2 linked regions of the Homo sapiens genome follow. The protein of the gene in region 1 purifies or fractionates together with the protein of each later gene. This does not show direct contact. Each region holds a gene or a part of one and is shown in the gene's direction. Other genes may lie near its edges.

What was found. Proteins that work in one complex are often made in the same cells at the same time.
Region 2: the proteins of CCDC69 (region 1) and PSMG3 purify together in Homo sapiens (affinity purification with mass spectrometry; 2 studies listed by BioGRID and IntAct, with this or other methods). This does not show direct contact.

Annotation. Positions count from the first base shown.
Region 1 is NC_000005.10:151,220,725-151,228,675, reverse strand, and holds the start of CCDC69 (coiled-coil domain-containing protein 69), read left to right. Parts: upstream 1-4,583; 5' UTR 4,584-4,705; coding exon 4,706-4,753; exon of another isoform or gene 4,754-5,200; intron 5,201-7,943; exon of another isoform or gene 7,944-7,951. UniProt on the Homo sapiens protein: May act as a scaffold to regulate the recruitment and assembly of spindle midzone components. Required for the localization of AURKB and PLK1 to the spindle midzone.
Region 2 is NC_000007.14:1,567,033-1,574,383, reverse strand, and holds PSMG3 (proteasome assembly chaperone 3), read left to right. Parts: upstream 1-4,351; 5' UTR 4,352-5,044; coding exon 5,045-5,260; intron 5,261-6,533; coding exon 6,534-6,686; 3' UTR 6,687-7,052; downstream 7,053-7,351. UniProt on the Homo sapiens protein: Chaperone protein which promotes assembly of the 20S proteasome. May cooperate with PSMG1-PSMG2 heterodimers to orchestrate the correct assembly of proteasomes.

The DNA of each region.
Region 1 (7,951 bases):
TACTTGCCGAAGAAGTAGTAGCTACTTATTGATTGCTAACTATGGTAGACATTATGCTATTTGCCAATATTTCTGATTCTCCTCTCCTTCTGCACACACATTGCACTTTCCCATCCTCTTAAAGTTGGGCATGATTGTTTGACTTGCTTTGGCCAATGAAATGTGAGTGGACCTAATGTGCGTCTCCTCCAAGTGGAAGCAGTTAAGGCCCTATGCACTATTCTCGGTACACTCCCTTCTCTTTGTGCAGCAAATCCTAAAGCCGTCATGTTGAGAAGGCTGTGTTATATGACGATGTGGAACGTCTCTGTGAAGCAGAGCCCACTGCCTGCCCGTTCTGGACACGTAGTGTGAGCAAAAACTTAGCTTCTCTTGTGTTAAGTCACAAAGTCTTGTGTTATGCTTTTTATTGTCTCAGCAAAACCTAACCTAACCTGACTGGTACACCAACCATCAAAAATCTCATTGGCAACTTTATCAAACTCATGCTGCTCAAGTTTCTCAGGCATGAACTTCAAAACACATGACCAAAAATCCAGCAGTGGGAAATTGTGAAATCTGAACCTGCTCTCCCAGGAGGCTCAAAGAGGCTGGAGGCAAGACGTCTTGAGAGCTGGGGCTCCAGGGAAAGAACTTGCCTCCTAGTTCCTACCCACCACTCCAAGCTATTCATTTTATTTTCTTCTGCTTTATTTATTTTTAGAGACAGTGTCTTCCTCTGTTACTCAGGCTGGGGTGTAGTGGCATGATAGTAGCTCACTGTAATGACAAACTCCTGGGCTCAAACAATTCTTCGGCCTCTGCCTCCTGAGTAGCTGGGACAACAGGCTCACGCTACTATGCCCAGCTAATTAAAAAAAATTTTTCTTTTTTACAAGGTCTCATTATGTTGTCCAGGCTGGTCTCAAACTCCTTGCCTCAAGTGCTCCCCCTGTCTAGGCCTCTCAAAATGTTGGGATTACAAGTGTGAGCCACCATGCCTGGCCCCAAGTTATTAATTTCAATTGTTGACATTAAAATTTGGGGTCAATTTTGGAGAGTTCAACTCTTCAACATATAGATGAGAAACTCTCAGAAAGGAGAAATTACTGGTTCAGGATCACTTTACGGGTTTGGATCTCATGCTCACAGTTTAGCCATCTTTGCCCTTTATGTTGCTTTTCTACCTAATTAATCACAGTCATTGTCCATTTCTTTAGGATTTCACAGAACTGCCCATGTCTTGATGATGAAAAACTAATGATAGTTTCATGTATGGGTTTAAAAACATATTAAAAGAAAACTTTTTCATATTAAAATAATATTGTTTATTACAATAGTAATAAGTGCATGCTCATTTTTTTTTTTTTTTTTTTTTTTTTTTTTTGAGACGCTCTGTCACCCAGGCTGGAGTGCGGTGGCGCAATCTTGGCTCACTGCAAGCTCTGCCTCCCAGGTTCACGCCATTTTCCTGCCTCAGCCTCCCAAGTAGCTGGGACTACAGGCACCCAACACCACGCCCAGGCAAATTTTCTGTATTTTTAGTAGAGAAGGGTTTCACCATGTTAGCCAGGCTGGTCTCGAACTGCTAGCCTCAAGCAATTCTCCCACCTCAGCCTCCCAAAGTGCTGGGATTACAGGCGTAAGCCAGTGTGCCCGCCCTCATTATTTAATATAAGAAAATGAAGCCAGGCTCAATGGCTCATGCCTGTAATCCCAGCATTTTGGGAGGCTGAGGTCGGAGAATTGCTTGAGGCTAGGAGTTCGAGACCAGCCTTGGCAATATAGTGAGACTCTCTATAAATTTTGTTTGTTTGTTTTTTTGAGATGGAATCTCACTCTGTTGCCCAGGCTGGAGTGCAGTGGCACGATCTCTGCTTACTGCAACCTCTGCCTCCCGAGTTCAAGTGATTCTCCTGCCTCAGCCTCCCTAGTAGCTGGAATCACAGGCATGCACCACCATGCTCGGCTAATTTTTAGTAGAGACGGCATTTCACCAAGTTGGCCAGCCTGGTCTTGAACTCCTGACCTCAGGTGATCCACCCGCCTCAGCCTCCCAAGGTGCTGGGATTACAGGCATAAGCCACTGTGTCTGGCCTACAAAAAAAAATTTTTTTTTTCTTTGAGAGGGAGTCTCGCTCTGTTGCCCAGGCTGGAGTTCAATGGCACAATCTAGGCTCATTGCAACCTCTGCCTCCCGGATTCAAGCAATTCTCCTGTCTCAGCCTCCTGAGTAGCTGAAACTACAGGCACACATCACCACATCCGGCTAATTTTTGTATTTTTAGTAAAGACAGGGTTTCACCATATTGGTCAGGCTGGTCTCGAACTCCTGACCTCAGGTGATCCATCCACCTCAGCCTCCCAAGGTGCTGGGATTACAGGCATGAGCCACTGTGCCTGGCCTACAAAATTTTTTTTTTTTAAATTAGCTAGGCTTGGTGGCAGGCACTTGTGGTCTCAGCTACTCGGGAGGCTCAGGTGGGAGGATCACTTAAGCCTGGAAGACTGAGGCTGCAGTGAGCCATGATCACTCCACCGCCCTCCAGCCTGGGTGATATTGCAAGATCCTGTCTCAAAAAAAAAAAAACTGTTTTAAAATTTCAAAATCTCACCAATACAGTGGTAGTCACTCAATTTTTTTTTTTAATGAAAATGAGTTTGTTATGTTTTGTAACACAAAAAATTCATCTTCATCAGTATTTTTGCTGGTTATGTGGCATTCTATTTTTATGGATATAGCATAATGTATTTAACCAACCTTCTTTTCTTGGCTGTTTAGGTTGTTTTGGGTTCTTTGTTTTTAATCATGAGCACTGTTCCAATAAACATTGTTAATTTTAGTATAATTTAAGTATATCCTGTTTCTTCAGTACCTGTGGAGCACGTCCTATGGCAGGGGTTCTCAAACTTTAGCCCAGGCCAGACATGAGTGGAGTGCTTATGAAGCCATAGATTCCTAAGCCCCATCCCCAGAGTTTAGGCCAGGGGTGGGGCCCGAGAATTTGCATTTCCAACAAAGGCGGCTGGTAGTGCTGACACTGCTGATTTGGGAATCACACTTTGTGAGCCACCATTCTCTATTATACTTGCTTTTGAGAACCTAATAACACGTTTCCTTAGTTTCCTTTCTTACACACTTTTGCAATTGGTTTTGTACCCTATGGAGGGAGCAATTTTTTTGAGGTCTCATATTCTTTCCCCATTCATGACTCTAAGCCGTTTTCACAGCACACCTTTCCAAGAGTTTTGGGCCTGACTTTAATATTCCAATATACACGCAAATAGGCATACACACTGATTTTCAAAATTGGTTATCTTTTTCCTGCATTGCCATTTCAGAAACCTCAGCTAATAACAAAGAGAAGATAAACAAAAGCTCCTTTTCCTAGACACTGACATTTTATGTCCCATAGTCACCATACCTGGCCTGCCTCAAGAGGTTGTTGTGATGAATAACATCTATCCAAGATGGATAGAGTCAAATATTACAGATGCTTGTGAGGTGGAAAAAACTATCAGCCCAGAAGTGAGGAGGCATTAAAATTAAACTTAGTATTATTGGCCAGGTGTGGGATCCCAGGACTTTGGGAGGCCGAAGCGGGCGGATTACCTGAGGTTGGGAGTTTGAGATCAGCCTGGTCAAAATGGTGAAACTCTGTCTCTACTAAAAATACAAAAATTAGTTGGGTGTCGTGGTGCATGCCTGTAATCCCAGCTACTGGGGAGGCTGAGGCAGGAGAATCACTTGAACCTGGGAGGCAGAGGTTGCAGTGAGCCAAGATCGTGCCACTGCACTCTAGCCTGGGCAATAGAGCGAGACTCTGTCTCAAAAATAAATAAATACAATAAACTTAGTATTATGATTTATTTGTAGGCCATTGAGTCAAAGTTTAGGTTCTGGAGTTAGAACTGTATTCTGTGCAGTGGCTCATGCCTGTAATCCCAACGCTTTGGGAGGCCAGGGTGGGAGGATCGCTTGAGGGCGGTCGTTCAAAATCAGACTGGAAAAAAGAAAAGAATTTGGTTGGGTATGGTGGTGAGCCTCTGTAGTCCCAGCTACTCAGGAGGCTGAGCTGGGAGGCTCGCTTGAGCCCAGGAGTTTGAGGCTGCAGTGAACTATGATAGCGGCAAAAAAAAAAAAAAAAAAGGAACTGGATTCTATCTGGGCTGTGGTAACTTACTAGCCATGTGACCTTAGGCAAATCATGTTGCATCTCTGAACACCATTTTCCTCACCTGTAAAATGGAGGAAGTAATACCTTTGTTGCACTGATATGGCAAGAAATAGAAATAAAATGTATAAAACAACTGGGACAAAAACAGCCCTCAATGAATGATAGTTGTTAGTTTATCAAATAATTGCTTTAATTATTTTTTCCCCCGGCCCTTTCTTAGCTGAGGGTTCGGAAAAGCATCTGTTGCTCCTTGAGGTTTTCTTTTCTTCTGCCCTGACCAGAGCTTCCTATTATTTAGAAGGATTCTGGTCACCTGCCTCTGGTGGCGGCGCCGCTGGCCCTGCGGGCTACACTGAGGCCCCGCTCTTCGGGTATTTACGGCGGGCGGCCGCCCCAGCTCAGGCTCAAGACAGCGCTTCCAGGTTCAGTTTCAGGGTCTCGCCGGCAGCCCCAGCCGGCGGGCGCGGAGCGGGCAGCGGGGCCCGGATCGCAGGCTCCTCTGGGGGCCCCGGAGTTGGGAAGCGGCGTCCGGGAGCCCCCGGAGGAGGATGGGCTGCAGACACAGCAGGCTGAGCAGCTGCAAACCCCCGAAAAAGGTAAAGGGCGCCGGCGGAGAAGTTTGCTTTCAGAGGAGAGGGGAGTGCGGAATCGCTCCGCCGCAGAGGACTCGGCGCCCCGGGCTCTCTCTGGTCGGCCCGGGATACCGGACGGAGAACCTGGAGAGGCCAGCTCAGAGACGAGGGAGGCTCTGCTGGGAGGCGCCCTTTACCCCGGCCCGAGCCGCACCAAGCAGCCGAGTTTACAAACACGGCACCCGGGCCAGGGAAAGGCAGCTGATTCCCGCTGCCTCGGGTGGGGAGATGTCGTGTGTCTGTGGCAGGTGCCCTCTGCTTTCGGTCTGGGGCTGTTCGCTGTGTGGCCATGGACAAGTGACTTGACCTCTCTGGGCCTTCGGCTTCCTCCCCCCGGGGGTTAAAGGCTGATAATCTCAGGGCTGCTCGAAGAGTGTTCCACAGACTCGCAGTATCAGCATCCCTGGGGACCTGTCAGAAATGCAGAATCTCAGGCTCAGGCCCAGTCTTGCCAAGACAGAAGCTGCCTTTTAACAATATGCCCAGGTGATGACGCTTTAAAGTTTGAGGCGCTGGTCTTAGGGCTCTTGCAGGCCCCAGAGCTGGTGAGTGTGGGCTGCCCTTGGGGTAGCTGGGAGGGGCCAAAGAGGGAGGAGATCTACTGCGTTCTGTGGCCCTCTCCTCCCTTCCTGTCCTTCCCCCAAGGGGCCTTGGAGCTGGGTCAGGGCCCAGGGGACAATTCTCAGGTTTCTTGCAGTGAGACCAGCTGCCCCTTGGGGTCTGACGAGCCCAGAAGGTCAGAGCCTGGAGCTAGAAAGATAGCCTCCTCAGGGGACACTGTGAGGCAGAGGGGAAGAAGGACCCTCAAATTCTGGCCCCTTTTCTTACCACTACCTGCCCCCTAGCCAGGTGGGACTAGGTGATCCCTTAAACTTTATCATCATTCCCCCTTGAGACCTTGAGAGGCCCCAAACTGTGACAGTGTTTAATAGTTTTGCAATGAACTTTAGTCCTCCCTCTGCTCCTGCTTTGCTTGTGCCCTGAGTACAGGTTTTTCTGCCTAACAGTAGTCCTAGCCTGGAGGATTCTACTCCCTTCTCTGACACCTCCTGGCTTTCCTTGCTCTCCCTTTATTACCAGATTGAAATTCTCACCAACTCCTGACCTAGAAACCCTCATGTCTTTACTCACTCCAACAGGGAAACTGAGGCTTGGCTCTATCAGTAGAAGGAAGGGGCTGGCTGACAGGGATGACAAGGCGGAGAGACCTGAGCCTTGGCTGAGACTTGTAACTGAGCAAGTGGTAGGCAGACATTAGCCCTGGGTGTAAGTCCTGGTGGTGCCATAAACATACTGGGTGACCCCAAGCAAGCCCTTGTGTCTCCCTGGGTCTCAGTTTCTCCCTGTATGGGGAGTGATGAGCAGGATGATCCCTAAGCATCTGAGAGTCTGTGTTCTCTGCACCTGTGTCAACCTTGTAGCTTGCAAAGTGGACCAAGGGTGAATTCCATCTACCTAGAGGTGGAGGAAACGGGGAAGAGCCTGACCCTTCCACAAGCTGGAAGAGGAGGTCACAGTAAGCACAGGTTCTTTGGCTCCTGCTCCTTCTGAGAGACTTACCAGCTGTTCCTGCCTGTCCCTGGCACAGCCAAAGCTCTGAAGGGCAAGTAAAGCTGGCACAGCCTGTCTGAGTTGGAAAGGGCCTTTGGGTACTACCTGGGCTGACGCACCCACTATACAGATAGGAGGTTAAGGCCTAGAAAAGGGAAGGAGCATGACTGAGGTCACAGAGCAACACAGAGCAGAACCCAGGTATCTAGTCCCCTAGCTCCGTGTTCTTTGTCTCCACCTCCTCCCGCTGTGCTTCCAGTGGCTTCTTGATGACTTTAGCGTAAAATCTTTTACTCCTGTTGCCTCAGAGAACAGCCTGGCATGCCTTCTTGGCCCCAGCCATGCCAGGCCCCTGCCCCTATATGGCAAGATTTATGGGCTGTTTTTGTTTAAAGTTCTCATCCCTGTAGGCTGTGCTCCTGCCCAATTTCTCACCCAGGTGCCAACCCCTTGGAAGGCATGAGCTCCCAAGTTCATCCCCAACAGGCTACCAGCCCCCTGGGAGAGAGGGGGACTCCAGGGATGGGATGGACAAAAATGAGCTCAGGCTACAGAGGGGTTAGGTTCTGATAACCATGACTCACCCTGAGTGTTTACAGCATGCTTTCACATCCCGCCCAGTCTCACAGAAGCCCTGGAAGTTAGGCTGAGCTGCAGAATCTTTCCCACTTTACCGGGGAAACTGAGGCTCAGTGAGGAACGATGGGTCCAAAGTCACACAGCCAGTTGGTGGCAAAGCTGTGCAGTTGAGCCTGGCTTTCTGCACTCCCCATCTGGTGCTCATTGCCTTATACAGATCATGGAGCAGGTGCTTAAGTAGATATTTGAGTGAATGAGGGACAAATAAGAGCCATGCTAGGGGTTGGCCCAGGGAGCAGTAGGAGCATCACATCTAGCCTTGAGAGATGCAGGAAGGGTTTTTGAGGAAGGGTGGTTTGGAAGGTATGGCAGGAGTTACCCACTCATGGCCAAGGCCTAAGCAAAGGCTGAGCCACTGAAAGCACAGCGTGAGGGGGTTCTTTGTGGAGAATGGAGGTGGCAGGCAGCAAGGAATGAGGCAGGCACTTTTAGAAAGGATTATCCTGGCTAGGGACAGGAGCTTGACCATGAGGCCTTCTCATGTCCCTCCAGGTTCAAGGATCTGGGGGTCTGCTGAGTTCTGTGGTCTATGGTGCCTGTTGGGCTTGGCCGACTAGATGTTCTAGACCACCCTGAGAGGCCTGGCCTGGGACTAGGTCACTGCCTTATTGGGACAAGTTGAAATGCTGGGAATAAATGAATAGGGTTCCTGGCAGGCTGGGGGTGGGTGCTGAGGAACCATCTGGATCGTGTGGTCCTGCCTAAACCCTTCTTCTTGGCAAAGACCATGGCTAATGTGGTCACATCCCCCAGGAGGACTCAGGAGAAGGCCAGGCAGAGTGGGTAGGGGTCAAGGAAACAAGCCTTCTGGGGAGTTGCCAGCCACAGTGGTAAGGAGGGGCCTTCCTATCCCCAACAGGTTACCAGCCTCCCTTGGGCAATAGGGTAGGAAGCGGAGGGGGGGTGGGGACTGGTGCAGGAGGCATCTCGTGGCCAACCCCCTTTGTGTGACACTGCAGAGTACCAGGAATG
Region 2 (7,351 bases), on another chromosome or scaffold:
AGCCGAGATTGCACCATTACACTCCAGCTTGGGCAACAAGAGCAAAACTCCATCTCAAAAAAAAAAAAAAAAAAAAAAAACGGTTTCAGGAAGCCCACAAATGGGATGCCAGGGATGCTCAGATGGAGACCAAAGCAGTGGGTCAGTGTGGGAGGCCCTGGCAAAGCTACACAGTCAGGCGGCTGAGAGTGAGGCCACGCCCATGGCTAATGGCCGGATGGTCCTTCAACAAGAAAGGGTGAGACTATTAAACGATGAAGAGAGACGTGGCCAGGTGCGGTGGCTCACGCCTGTAATCCCAGCAGTTTGGGAGGCCAAGGCGGGCGGGTCGCAAGGTCAAGAGATCAAGACCAGCCTGGCCAACATGGTGAAACCTCGTCGCTACTAAAAATGCAAAAATTAGCCAGGCGTGGTGGTGGGTGCCTGTAATCCCAGCTACTCAGGAGGCTGAGGCAGGAGAATCGCTTGAACCTGGAGGGTGGAGATTGCAGTGAGCCAAGATCTTGCCACTGCACTCCAGCCTAGCGACACAGTGAAATTCTGTCTAAAAAAAAAAAAAAAAAAAAGAGAGAGAGAGAGACTTGTGGGGAAATTGATGGTGTCCTTGCCCATTTTTGTAAAACCAATCCTCTTCATCCTGGAGCTGGGAAAATCACACACAATGGGAAGGATAACGTGTGTAGCGATCATACAATTTGTCGGAAAAATTACAATCCTACCAAATCGGCACTTGACTAAGTCTTTGTTGGTTCTACAAATGCACACACCATAGCATTATCACCGACAATTTATTGAATATAAGACAAATTTAAGATACTTTGCTTTTTTTTTCATTTTTCAAAATAACTCCTTGAACTCTTTGCCCCACAATTGGCACCATTACTATTAGATTCCCATTTTATGTGAATGCACTTGAGTGAGTCTTTCTTTCCAGTTCCTTTACCCTTGGGTACTGGAGAACAGTCAATGGCATGCAATGAGGTCCTCTTCCATTCTTCTAGATATATAAATTCTGCCCAGGCATCCATCCAGGCTGCCAGAAAGTCCCTGGACCACCACCTCAGCCTAGGACAACCTTCCACCTCTCATTTCTTTCCTACTGTCTTTATCTTAGATCTAGACCCAAACCACCCAAACAATCCCTCACATAAGTGCTTAGCAGTGTCATCAAAAACAACATCCAGGCTGGGTGCTCACGTCTGTAATCCCAGCACTTTGGGAGGCCGAGGCGGGCAGATCACCTGAGGTCAGGAGATTGAGACCAGCCTGGCCAACATGGCGAAACCCAGTCTCTACTAAAAATACAAAAATTAGCCGGGCGTGGTGGCAGGTGCCTATAATCCTAGCTACTCATGAGGCTGAGGTAGGGGAATCGCTTAAACCTGGGAGGCGGAGGTTGCAGTGAGCCGAGATCGCACCACCGCATTCCGGCCTGGACGACAAGAGCGAGACTCCATCTCAAAAAACGACAACAACAACAAAAATCCATCTTGTTCTTCAACATCCCTTTTTTAAAGGTGATAAGTTTATTTCAGAGGGTTTTCTTTGAGAGGACAGGATCAGATTTCTTGTATCTATTTGCCTACAGAGAGGGAGAATACACAAACAGGTGAATAAAAGCGAGTGAACCTTTTGAAGATTTCAGATGGCAAAGCAATCCACTGGCAATTTGCTTGTGGGGTATGTGTGGGTGGATGTGTGTTTAAATTTAGAGCCGACAGAAACTTAGACTTTCCTGGGAAGTTGATATGCTTCCTGTTTTTTGAGTATTAGAACCATGAAACTCATCATCTCTCCTTTTGTGTACTGGCTGCAAGAATGCTCAAAAATGAATTTCCCCTTGATTTATGTCTATTTTGATCATTTTCTGTATGCATGCTTTTTATTTTAGGCCTCCAGAAATCATCATTGGAAGGAGCATGCTTCATTTGACTTGACTTGGATTGGATACGAAGTCATCAAATGGTGAGAAGAGGGAGTCAAGATCTTCCTTGGAGCTTCAGTGGTGTAAATGTCAGAGGTGTTTGAACCAGAGCAACTTCATCTTGAATAGGGGCTGGGTAAAATGAGGCTGAGATCTGCTGGGCTGCATTCCCAGACAGTTAAGGCATTCTATGTCACAGGATGAGATAAGAGGTCGGCACAAGCTACAGGTCATAAAGACCTTACTGATAAAACAGTTTGCAGTAAAGAAGCTGACCAAAACCCACCAAACCAACATGGCGATGAGTGTGACCTCTGGTCGTCCCAGCTGCTACACTCCCACCAGCGCCGTAAGTTTACAAATGCCATAGCAATGCCAGGACGTTACCCTAAAGGGTTTAAAAAGGTAAGGCACGAATAATCCACCCCTTGTTTAGCATATCATCAAGAAATAACCACAAAAATGGGCAACCAGCAGCCCATGCTGCTCTGCCTATGGAGTAGCCATTCTTTATTCTGTTACTGGTGGAGGGTGTCCAGGTTCTTGGCATCTTGAACAAAGAATTGGACAAAATGCACAAAGCCACCGGGCGCGGTGGCTCACACCTATAATCCCAGCACTTTGGGAGGCCGAGGCGGGCAGATCACCTGAGGTCAGGAGTTCAAGACCAGCCTGGCCAACATGGCGAAACCTCGTCTCTACTAAAAACACAAAAGTTAGCCGGGCATGGTGACGCACGTCTGTAATCTCAGCTACTCAGGAGGCTGAGGCAGGAGAATTGCTTGAACCCGGGAGGCAGAGGTTGCAGTGAGGATCACGCCACTGCACTCCAGCATGGACAACAGAGACTCTGTCTCAAAAAAAAAAAAATGCACAAAGCAAAAAAAGAATGAAGCAACAAAAGCAGAAATTTTTTGAAAATGAAAGTACATTCCATGGTGTGGGGGCGGCCAAAGCATAGAGGCTCAGGGCCCCATTACAGAACTTGTGAGGTTTAAATACCCTCTAGGGGTTTCTACTGGTTACTTGGTGTACGCCCTATGTAAATAAAGAGGATGAAATAAAGTTACAAAATCATTTACTCAGTGTACACCCTATGGAGAGGGTATTTCCTGTCATAGCTGAAGTGTTCCCTGCCTCCAGACCCTGTTTTCCTGCCTCAATTCCTTTACTTTTCTAATAAACTTGCTTTCACTTTGTGGACTCGCCCTCAATTCTCTCTTGGGGTCTGGATCGGGACCCCTTTCTGGTAATATAGACAGAAAATACGGCCTTGACATGGTTGTCAGGAAACGACAGTAAGGCCTCCGAGGGTGGGGTTCTGAAGGGATGTTAAACGCCCCACCCCGAGGAAGGCTCTGGAGGCTCCAATCACTTTCAGCCTCTGCTACCAAGATGTCCGACCCTACCAATAAAACTTCCAGCAGCGGGGCGCGGTGGCTCACGCCTGTAATCCCAGCACTTTGGGAGGCCGAGGAAGGCAGATCACCTGAGGTCAGGAGTTCAAGACCAGCCTGACCGACATGGTGAAACCCCATCTCTACTAAAAATTTAAAAAGTTAGCCGGGCCTGGTGGCGCACGCCTGTAATCCCAGCTACACAGGAGGCTGAGGCAGGAGAATTGCTTGAACCAGGGAGGCGGAGGCTGCAGTGAGCCGAGATCGCGCCACTGCACTCCAGCCTGGGTGACACAGCAAGACTCCGTCTCAAACAAAACAAAACAAAAAACCTTCCAGCTTGGAGAAACTGAGAGTGAGCAGTAGGGAGTGAGGGGGTCCCTGGGAGGAACCAGAACTCATCCCGCTTCAGGGTGGGGCTGGCCCCCTTCTTGGCCTTGGCCGGGGCTTCGTGTCACGGAGCGCCCGAGGGACGGTCGGAGCCCACCCCAGCCCGCCCGCCGCCTGAGCCTGGCCGAGCTCTCTGCACCTGCACACGTCTGTAAAACGCGGATGAAACGCTTCTACGGAACCGGGTGGCTGAGATGAAGTGAGTTATGGGTATAAAGCGCTTAGAGCGATGCCTGGCGGACACTCGGTGCCAAATAAGCGTTCGCTGTGGCGACGATGACGCCTCCAGCCCAAAGCCCGTGGTCGAGCAGGGCCGGGCTCCCAGCGCTAGGGGGTTCCTAGGCGCGGCGCTTCGGGGGTCCTGGACACAGACACGGGGGACAGAGCTCCTACCAGCGACGATCCCGAGGGTCTGCAGCAGAGGGGCTGAGGCCCGGGACGGGGGTGGTCGCAGCGCCCTTTCCTGAAAAAACGGGGTTCGGCTCTAAGGCGCCCCCAAGCCCTGCCGGCAGCGCGGAACCCGAGCCGCTCAGAAGCCCGGGAGCCCCAAGTCTCCGGGACCAGAAGCGCCGCGGCCCTGACTTCCGGAAGGTGGACGGAACCCGCGGACGGGGCGGGCCCGCGTGGCGCACGCAGAGCCACTTCCGGGCGCGGCGCCGGCTTGGTGAGCGCGGGTACCCGCGGGCTTCCCCGGGCGGCTGCGTCCCCAGTAGCCCGGCCGGCCTCGGCACCGCGTGTCGTGGGGGTCCCGGGCCGCGGCTGCAGGGCCGGGGCGGCGGCGAGGCCGAGGGGCGGGAAGCCACTGCCCGGCCTGGCAGTGTGAACGTGCAAGTCGATCCCCTAACCCAGAAAGCCCCAGGCGCGGTCTCTATGGGCGGCCCCGCTCCTGCTTCTGTTTTATTTTTTTACGGACAGGGTCTCGCTCTACCGCCCGGGTTGTAATGCAATGGTGTGATCACGGCTCACCGCAGCCTCGACCTCCCGGGCTGAAGCGATCTTCCCGCCTCAGCCTCCTGAGTAACTGGGACCACAGGCGCGCCCTGCTGGTTTTTTTTTTTTTTTTTTTTGGTAGAGATGGGGGTCTCGCTATGTTGGCCAGGCTGGTCTCGAATTCCTGGCCTCAACGATCGTCCTGTCTCGGCCTCCCAAAGTGCCGGGATGACAGGCATGAGCCACCGCGCCTGGCCCCTTCTTTTGAATGGGCCTCCTTGCGTTTCCGTTTCAATGCCCCGTGCTACTTTTTTGGGAGCCCCAAGGCTGTACTGTTTGATTGACTCCTTTTTTTCCCCTTTCTTTTTAACCTAAATTAAAGCTGCCACTGCAGAGCCCCGCCATGGAAGACACGCCGTTGGTGATATCGAAGCAGAAGACGGAGGTGGTGTGCGGGGTCCCCACCCAGGTGGTGTGTACGGCCTTCAGCAGTCACATCCTGGTGGTGGTGACCCAGTTTGGGAAGATGGGCACCCTGGTCTCCCTGGAGCCCAGCAGCGTGGCCAGTGACGTCAGCAAGCCTGTGCTCACCACAAAAGTCCTTCTGGGGCAGGATGAGGTAAAGTGGATTGGCCGGGAACTGTGGCTCACGCCTGTAACCCTAGCACTTTCAGAGGCCTAGGCGGGCAGATCGCTTGAGGCCAGGAGTTTGAAACCAGCCTGGGCAACACAACAACACACACACAAGTCACTACAAAAAAACAAGTGCCTACACAAAATATATATATAGAGAGAGGCTGGGTGCAGTGGCTCACACCTGTAATCCCAGCACTTTGGGAGGCTGAGGCGGGCAGATCACTTAAGGTCAGAAGTTCCAGACCAGCCTGGCCAACATGGGGAAACCCCATTTCTACGAAAAATATAAAAATTAGCTGGGTGTGGTGGCACATGCCTGTAATCTCAGCTACTCAGGAGGCTGAGGCAGAAGAATCGCTTGAACCCGAGAGGCGGAGGTTGCAGTGAGCTAAGATCGTGCCACAGCACTCCAGCCTGGGTAACAGATAGAGACTTGGTCTTAAAAAAAAAAGGAAAAGAAAAGGAAACAAAAAATTAGCTGGGCCTAGTGGTGTGTGCCTGTGCTCCCAGCTACTTGGGAGGCTGAGGTGGGAGGATGGCTTGAGCCCTGGAGGTTGAGGCTGCAGTGAGCCATGATTGTGCCACTGCGCTCCAGCCTGGGTGAGAGAGCAAGACTCTGTCTTTAATAATAATAATAATAATAATAATAATAAAGTGGTCAGGAAGGGACCCCCAGGGAGGAGCATAAACCTCTCCAGTGGCTGTGATTTGTCAGTAAGGACATGGGGCATCTGGCGGACAAATACCCCTACAGCGATAGCATTTTCCGGGCATTTGTGGGTCTCAAGGCGCCCTGCTTGCCCTCAGTGGATGCTTTGTCCAGCCCGCAGGCATTTTATCCAGCAGACAAGCAGAAGCAGCAGTTTTGTCATTCGAGCCGCCTCCCCTGCCATGGTACATTACGTGAGCAGGCGGCTGGCTGTGCTGTGCTCTGTGGAGATCACACGTGAGATTCGACAGCACTCGCTTCTGCAGGCTTCTCTTTCCTGGGTTCTTTTAGATGAGAGAGAGCCAGAAGAGGCGGGGCTGCGGAAGGCGCTGGGAAAATGAATGGAGTGATGGTCTTTAGCAGTGTGCCCGTGACTGGAGTGTTCTGAGTGCTGCCAGAACTCTGAGTCACAGTTGCATGGACTTATGTGGCGGTTAATGGTGGTGTGGGAAGCCTGCCTGGGTTCCTAAGGGATACTTCATGAAAGCATTGAGGAAAAAACCAGGTTTCTTGCAGTTAAAATGGTTTCTTCTCCTTCCTTTACCAGCCTCTCATCCATGTCTTTGCAAAGAACCTGGTAGCGTTTGTGTCTCAAGAAGCTGGAAACAGAGCAGTCCTCCTCGCCGTGGCCGTGAAGGACAAAAGCATGGAGGGGCTGAAGGCGCTGAGGGAGGTGATCCGGGTGTGCCAGGTGTGGTGACCTGGAGGCAGCCGCCCCGCGCTGCTCAGCAGGACACGTGAACACCCAGACACCCACTCAGGGACTCAAGTCTCACCTCCCTCCCCGGTGGAGGGAGGAACTTTGGCACTAGCCCTTGGAGCCAGGAAAAAAGACTCGTGTCTCAGGCAGACTCTTACTCTGGTTACTAAGATCATCTGTGCATGACGGGGAGGGTGGAACAGGTCCCGGAGGAGTCGTGAATGGTTCTCACCAGGACCTGAATCGTTGCTTGTGTTTGAGAATTGGAGGAATGAGTCAGCAGGCGTGGCTCATGGCCCCCCCGTGTGCAGGATCAATTGTAGGAGGAAATTTCTTTTTTATTAAAAGCGAATGTGTATCCCAAAATACTTCACTGTCCTCCTTAACAGTAGCGAGACATTGCAGCCGCACAGCATGAGTTCAGTTTCATGGGCTTCATGAAGGGAAGCTTGTTGGGCAGAAACGCAGAGGGACGTAGTTCCCAGGAACTGGGTGGATCCCATGCTTGGGCCTGTGCACGCTGTCACCCAGCTCCAACTCCAGTAACTTCTCTGAGCCTGCTGGGAAGCTGGTGGCCGTCAGCGGACATCTCTTACTATCTTAATGTGTGTGCCCGTTACCGTGCTGCAGCTGGGGACAGACGCTGTCCTCTGAATCCTGCATAG